Homo sapiens: one gene and its partner. The protein of the gene in region 2 interacts with the protein of the main gene of each other region in a pairwise test. Each region holds a gene or a part of one and is shown on either strand. Other genes may lie near its edges.

Region 1 (3,647 bases), on a different chromosome or scaffold from region 2:
CTCCACACACCCCCTTGAGCCGGCATATTACCAGTTACTAGAGTAGGTACAGTGGAAGTGAGTTATGAAGCTGGGGTGTTAGCTTCCTGGATCCCTGAGAGAAAGTTCTAAACTCCTTTCTCCCTGATCAGACTCACATCCTAAACGTCTCCCTTTGCCTCGTTGTCTTTTAAAGCAAGAATGTGTAAGAAATTCATTTTGGGGTTGGAGGGATATTTTGATGTTTAGGGCTGCTTCACTAGACATCTTTTTCTTCTGATCTTGTTCTCTCTCCTCTCTTCATTTTCTCAACCACCCTTCCACCACTGAGCCTCCCAAAGGATGACAGCCCAGGTCCTGGCCAGAGTCAGTTCCTGTCCAGATGCCCCCATTCTTCAAAACCCCTTCCTTACCTTTTGGGAAGCCCTTCCTTACTCAAGTCTATCTCTCTTTCCTCCTGCTGCAGTGTGAGCCCTTGCACATCAGAACCCCCAAGCCTAGGTTTATTCCCGCCCAGTACTCTCTTCTCAGGGTCCTCCTCACTCCTCAGACTCTTTACCTTTCAGGTCCTCCAGCTCTGCGTGTGGGCTCATTGCTCTTGGGGCATCTGGGTGCAGCTGAATGGTACTGCAGGAAGGCCCCTGACTTGGTAGTGCTGGGTATGAGCGATAGAGAACCTGCCTCCCTCTTCTGTCCCAGATTTCAGCCTGGTTAGCAGGATCCTGCATTGTTTGGAGAAGGAAGCAGTTGGCTTTGGAGTGTTTCCGGTGCAATGGCCTCAGGCACCAATATAAACCCTCCCTGGGAAAGAGGTGAGGGGTATATGTGGAGAGTTGTCCCTCTTGCTCCCCTAGGGGAGATGAAAGCCTCTCCCTCTCCCACCAGGCCTTAGCTTCCCTGGCTGAAGAGCTCCATTTTCCTCCCTCCTTTCTACCCTCCTGACTCCAGGGGTGGTAGTGGTCCCTATTCTGGGTCTCCCTTGAGTCAGGCACTGCCTAGGGCCGAGACTCTGTCTCTCCAAGATAGGACAGATCTTGCTCCCACCCTACTCTAGGCTCAGCGGGGTAGTCATTCTCTGGGTTCATCCCAGGACAACTGTGTCATCCCCTTGGCAATCTCTGGACTGAGCCCCCTTCCTGGCTTTTCTGGCTGTCTGTCTGTCTTTCTGTCTGTCTGTCATTAGTGTGCGCTGTCTTGGCTTTTTAGAACCTCTCTGTCTCTCACCCTCTCAGTTCATCTCTTACTGCCGAACCTTTGTGACATTCTCTGCCCTGCTTTCTGCGTCTCTGTCACTTGTCTTATTTTTCTCTGCCTGTCTCCATTTACCCCCATCCAGGCCTCTTGGTATCCCAAAAGCTTCTTGGGAGCAAGAGTCTCTCTGGGCTTTCCCACTCACCCCCTGGCTCCCTCCCCTCTGTTTTGGCTATTTTTCCCCCTTCCTGGCCAGACCCAGTGTCCAGTTCAGCACCAAAAGTTTCCTCTCCACTTTCCTCCGACTTCCTCTTTCTTCTTCCCCCTCCACTAATTTGGGGAATGGGTTTTGGAGAGAATGTTTCTGGAAGAAAGGAACTTGATACCCTTTGTGGGCTAAGAGGGAGAAAGGAGGTATTTCAGAAGGAAGGAGGGAGGTTAGACTTCTGGCAGAACTTCCTCCTGACCAGGAGCCTAAGAACTGGAGAAAGATGTAAGGAGTGAGTCAAGAACTTGGAGCTTTTACTCTGGTGAGCATAAGCTGTGTGTGTGGCTGGGGTGGGGGGAGAAGGAGAGGAGGCTTAGAAATGCCTGGTGAGTGATATGGTGACCTCTGGAGGCCTTCTGGGGGTCTGGCTTTTATTTGTGGGGAAAGGAAAAGCTGGTGGGGGAGGTCACGGGTCAGGCTAATGTCCTGCTGCATCAATATTGACTCAGAATGGAAGCGGAGACCCTTCCCCTCCCCTGGCTGTCCAAGCCACCCTGTCTGTCTGTCTGTCCAGGCCGCAAAGCAGAGGCCCAGACTCAGGAATGACAAAAATGTGTCTGAGCCTCAGGAAAGAGCCACTGGGCAACACCCAAAATACAAAAAATTCAGTGAAAACCTCTCGGTTTGGGTTTGGGAGGCCCTTGCTGCCCCACCCCCATAAGGTCGAAAATTCAGATTCCTGCAGGCTCTGTCCCCGCGCCGCCCCCCCACCCCACCCCCCGCACCTTGAGCATCCTCCTCCCACTCTGTTCCCTTAGCTATATCATGTGGTTCCCTTTAGAGAACCCCCCTCTCACCTAGCTCAGAGGGGAGCCTATCTCTCCTTCTGCTGTGTCCACTCTTAAAAAGGGCCCCAAGAGTCCCTGTCATGCTTTTGCAGTCCCTGAGTCTCCTTGTCCTTTAAGAAGCACCTCTAAGGTCTTAGCTCTCTTCCTTGCTCTCGCTCCCTCAAGGGGGTATCAAAGGATGGGTTCCCCTCCTCTGGAGAAGACTCCTTCAGGGTTGGACTTCGCTGTCACCCTCTCTGGCCAGGCATTCTCACCCCACTTCCCCACCCCCAAGGTCCCAGAATGGGACACAGAATGACAGCCAAGGGTCAAGCAGGGCAGTGGGGTCTGTGTTGTGTCTGGACGCACACCCAACTCTACACCTCCTGCCCTGGCTCCAGCTTGGTGGCCCTGGGGACCGTGGCTGGGCTGGGTGCCTGGGTTTGGGGGGGTGGGGCAGGGTGTTGGCCAAGTTAGCATGGCAGTCACATTCATCTTCAGGCAAAGCCGAGAACAGACGGCCCCTGTGTCCTGGTGTTCTTCCTCCAAACTCGCTCTCTCTCCTTCCTCTCTAGATCTCTCCTTCTTCTTCTCCTGCCTGTCTTCCCCTTCTTCTGTCCCATTCTTGCTCCTCTCTGTCTCCCCTATGCCCTTCCCTCCTCTCTGAGGAGCCCTGAAGGCCACCCCTTAAAATCCTCTCCCCACTGCCAGGGCCAGAGAACGACAGCGTTCTCCCTGCAATTTCCCTTCCTTGTTTTTTGTTTTTGTTTTGTTTTGTTTTTGAGACACAGTCTCACTCCATCACCCAGACTGAAATGCAATGGCGTGATCTCTGCTCACTGCGACCTCCGCCTCCTGCTAATTTTTGTATTTTTAGTAGAGACAGGGTTTCACCATGTTGCCCAGGCTGGTCTCAAACTCTTGACCTCAAGTGATCCGCCCATCTCCGCCTCCACCTCCCAAAGTGCTGGTACTACAGACGGGAGCCACTGCGCCCATCTGGTTTCCTTTCTTTCTTTCTTTTTTTTTTCTTTTGAGATGGAATCTCGCTCTGTTGCCCAGGCTGGAGTGCAGTGGCGCGATCTCAGTTCACTGCAAGCTCCGCCTCCCCTGGTTCACGCCATTCTCCTGCCTCAGCCTCCTGAGTAGCTGGGACTACAGGCGCCTGCCACCACGCCCAGCTAATTTTTCATATTTTTAGTAGAGACGGGGTTTCACCGCGTTAGCCAGGATGGTCTCGATCTCCTGACATCATGATCTGCCTGCTTCGGCCTCCCAAAGTACTGGGATTACAGGCATGAGCCACCATGCCCGGCCTGGTTTCCTTTCTTAACCCGGCTGCATCCCATGACCTATGAGGAAACCACCTGCTCAGTTACCAGTCACCCTGTGCCTCAGCTCCCCCATGTGTGAGAGGGGGGCCGCAAGGGCACCCACCTCAC
Region 2 (3,647 bases):
ATTTACAATTGAATTCGGGTAACTGTTGGAGTGCTGAATAAGTTTCTGTCATAGATGAGAGAATTCTGTATACGACTGCGGAACCTGGTACACAGTGGAGCAACCAAAGGAGAAATCTCGGCCACACAGGACGTCATGATGGAGGAGGTAATAACAAAATTTGGATTTTTTTGTGACCCCTCTAAGGAACTCTCAGAATATTCCCATCTGTTAAAGTAATGATTAGGAAGCTTTAGTCATGGCAACGAATGTTTAATTGAATTGAAAATTACTTATTTTACACTGAAAAAACTGAGCTTAAAACTTACTTTGCCTTTTAGTGTAGGACTTGGACTTGGATTTTCTAATTCGTAGTTTAGTGGTCTGTATAATCATTCTTTTATCATTTCATAAATATTAAATACCTTCTATGAGTTTGGCACTGAGGAAACAGATGAGAAAGACATAGTCACTGCTCTTAAAGAGCTCAGTCTCTTGGGAAAAAGAAAACACATCTATAATGATGATAAATCCTATGCTAGATGTGTAAAAACTGATTTGGTGGTCATAGAGGAGGGAGTGACTAGCTCAGTGAGCTGAAGCTTTCATAGGGAAGATAGCTCTTGAAAGAGTAGTCAGAATTTACCAGGTAGATAACAAGACCATTCTAGGCAAAAGGAATTGTATGAACAGTGCCATAAACAAAGATAGAACCTTCAGGGAATCATGTGGCTGAAACATAACTTTTTTCAGTATGATGGGTAGCAAATTAAGCTAGAAAGGCAGAGATGTAAGGGATGTTGGATCGATGCCAGAACATTTGGCTTCTTTCTGTAGAAATAAAGACGGAGCTATTGATGGTTATATTTGTTAATGTATGTAAAAACATTTTAGAAAATGTAAAAAGCACTAAAATATGAGGTGGTAATATTATTTATGATCAAGACAGTTAAGAAACTTTATTATTAATACTATCCATGTCCAGAATGAATATGCATAAAACTGCAATTGGTTTGAGGAAAGAATAAATGTTTCCGTTTGTCAGCCAGTAGGCCCTTTATTAGGCTTCCTTTCAAGACTGTATGGAGTTAAAATGGCCTACTTTTTTTCACTGCGATGGAAAACACTAATGCTTCACTTGTGTTTTCCTTTAAATCTTAGAGATGCAGCATAGTGGAGCAGTGGAGTGTGTAATCTCTGAAGTCAGGCTATCTGAGCTCTAGTCTTCTCATTACTTTATATCCTGGGACAAGTTCCTTAAGCTCTAAAGGCTCAGTTCATATTTAACATGTCTAGCCTAGTGCTTGGCACAATAGCTGTTTCTTAAGTATTTGTTGAGTGGACGAATGCAGAAATTTCATTTACCAAATGCATTTAAATAATCTCATTTTTATCTCTTAAATTCTTACAGAAGAGAGGCATCTTAGTATAGTAGGAAAAAATAGGCTTTGGAGTCAGACATACATGGGTTTAAATTCTGACTCTTTTACTTAACAGTCTGTGATCCTAGGTAAGTTACTTAACCTGTCTGAGATTCAGTCAGGATCTGAAATATTTTCCTTATTGGATTTTTGGGGAATCAAGGATTAAATGTAAGCATGCAAGGCATAGTGCCTGGCACGTAGCAGGAGTTCTGTAAATGTTACTTCTTCCCTTCTTGCTTGGAATGACTGTCTTGCAGAGGCTATATCTGCTACATAATTTGCCTTTATTTAGGGTTAGATTAAGATGGTGGGGGCCAGGCACGGTGGCTCATGCCTGCAGTCTCAGCACTTTGGGAGGCCAAGGTGGGCGGATCATAAGGTCAGGAGATCAAGACCATCCTGACCAACATGGTGAAACCCCGTCTCTACTAAAATACAAATAATTAGCTGGGCGTGGTGGTATGCGCCTGTAGTCCCAGCTACTCGGGAGGCTGAGGCAGGGGAATCACTTGAACCCAGGAGGCAGAGCTTGCAGTGAGCCGAGATTGTGCCACTGTACTCCAGCCTGGTGACAGAGTGAGACTCCGTCTCCAAAAAAAAAAAAAAAAAAAAAGATGGAGGTATAGTAGGAATGAAGGTTCTGCAAACAGTTGTGGAAAAGGGCCCAGATAATACTTGCTGTAGATAATAAGCATCCTTTTGGCTTTTGATGTTTGCTTTAATGATCTTTGAACTAATGATGTGTCTAAGATTGATGTCCTCATCATTGGTAGAGCGTGGTAATTGGCTGGTAAGAATTAGGGCAGATATGTTTCACATATTTTTTTCCTCCCCTACTCCTGCCTCAGAGAAATAGTAGATCCAACTTTACCAAATCCTGAGTATGAATGTTTTATAGGATTATTTACTTAATGATTCTACCTAAACTATTTACTACAGAATTCTGTGTGTAAGGGTTTTTTCCCCCTTAGAGACAGAGTCTTGCTTTGTTGCCCAAGCTGGAGTGCAGAGGCGCAGTCATAGCTTACTGTAACTTTCAACTCCTGGGCTCAAATGCTGCTTCAGCCACCCAAGTAGCTGGGACTACAGGTGCATGCCACCATGCCCAGCTCATTTATTAAAAAAATTGTGTAGAGATTCAGTCTCACTATATTTCCCAGGCCGATCTCCACCACCTGGGCTCAAGCAGTCCTCCCACCTTAGCCTCCCAAAGATTGTGCATATTATAAAGTGTGAGCCGCCATACCTGGCCCTGTGTATAAGGTTTTAAAATTTTTACAATCCCCCAAATGACTTCTTTTCATTGAACCTGACTCTTTGGTAATGAAGAGTCTAGCTGCAGTTTTAAAGCCCCAAATTAGTACCTATGATTTGTGTAACCTTGTAGGCAAGTCAAAATGATGGCTTAATCAACAGCCGTGAAGCTCAGATAGCTTTGAATAAAATGTGTTTATGCTAAAGGCATTCTTACTGAGAAGTGAGACGCAGGCTGCTTGTTGAGATGACAGGCAAGGCAGATCTGTTTTGGAGATGTGTAGTTACCTCTATTGCAATGTTATCTCAGTGTCCATTTTTTTAGCCTGCGGATCCCCTTAAGATTATTAATGTATTCTCAGTTGGGCGCAGTGGCTCATGCCTATAATCCCAGCACTTTGGGAGGTCAAGGCAGATGGATCACTTGAGGCCAGGAGTTCAAGACCAGCCTGGCCAACATGGCAAAACCCCGTCTCTACTAAAATACGAAAAAAACATCTGGGCATAGTGGTGCATGCCTATAATGCCAGCTGCTTGGGCAGCTGAGACACAAGAATCACCGGAACCCTGCAGGTGGTGGAGACCAAAATTGTGCCACTGCAGTCCAGCCTGGGTGACAGAGCAAGGCTCTGTCTCAAAAAAAAAAAAAAAAAAAAAACCTTGTCTGTTAAAAAGCAAAACATAGCCAGGCATGGTGGTAACACTTGTAGTGCCAGCTACTTGGGAGGCTAAGGCAGATCACTTGAGTCCAGAAACCCAGGAGTTCAAGTGCTACCTGGGCAACCTAGTGAGACCTCATTTCTAAAATCAATCGATCAGTCAATCAAAGACCAAAACCAATATTTGTCAGTGCCACAAAAAGGGAAAAGAAGCCTTTATGATTGACTTAGGAAATTCTATAGCAGTGGCTGTCAGCTATTGAAAACAATATATAGGATAGGCCTAACTTGTCCCAGACTCACAAAGTCAGTTTCCCTGGAATAGAACCTA

What was found.
Region 1: the proteins of BLMH (region 2) and LRP1 interact in binary tests that used the Homo sapiens proteins (3 or more experiments, as listed by UniProt).

Annotation. Positions count from the first base shown.
Region 1 is NC_000012.12:57,131,483-57,135,129, forward strand, and holds part of LRP1 (prolow-density lipoprotein receptor-related protein 1 preproprotein), read left to right. Parts: intron 1-3,647. UniProt on the Homo sapiens protein: Endocytic receptor involved in endocytosis and in phagocytosis of apoptotic cells. Required for early embryonic development. Involved in cellular lipid homeostasis.
Region 2 is NC_000017.11:30,281,888-30,285,534, reverse strand, and holds part of BLMH (bleomycin hydrolase), read left to right. Parts: intron 1-54; coding exon 55-147; intron 148-3,647. UniProt on the Homo sapiens protein: The normal physiological role of BLM hydrolase is unknown, but it catalyzes the inactivation of the antitumor drug BLM (a glycopeptide) by hydrolyzing the carboxamide bond of its B-aminoalaninamide moiety thus protecting normal and malignant cells from BLM toxicity.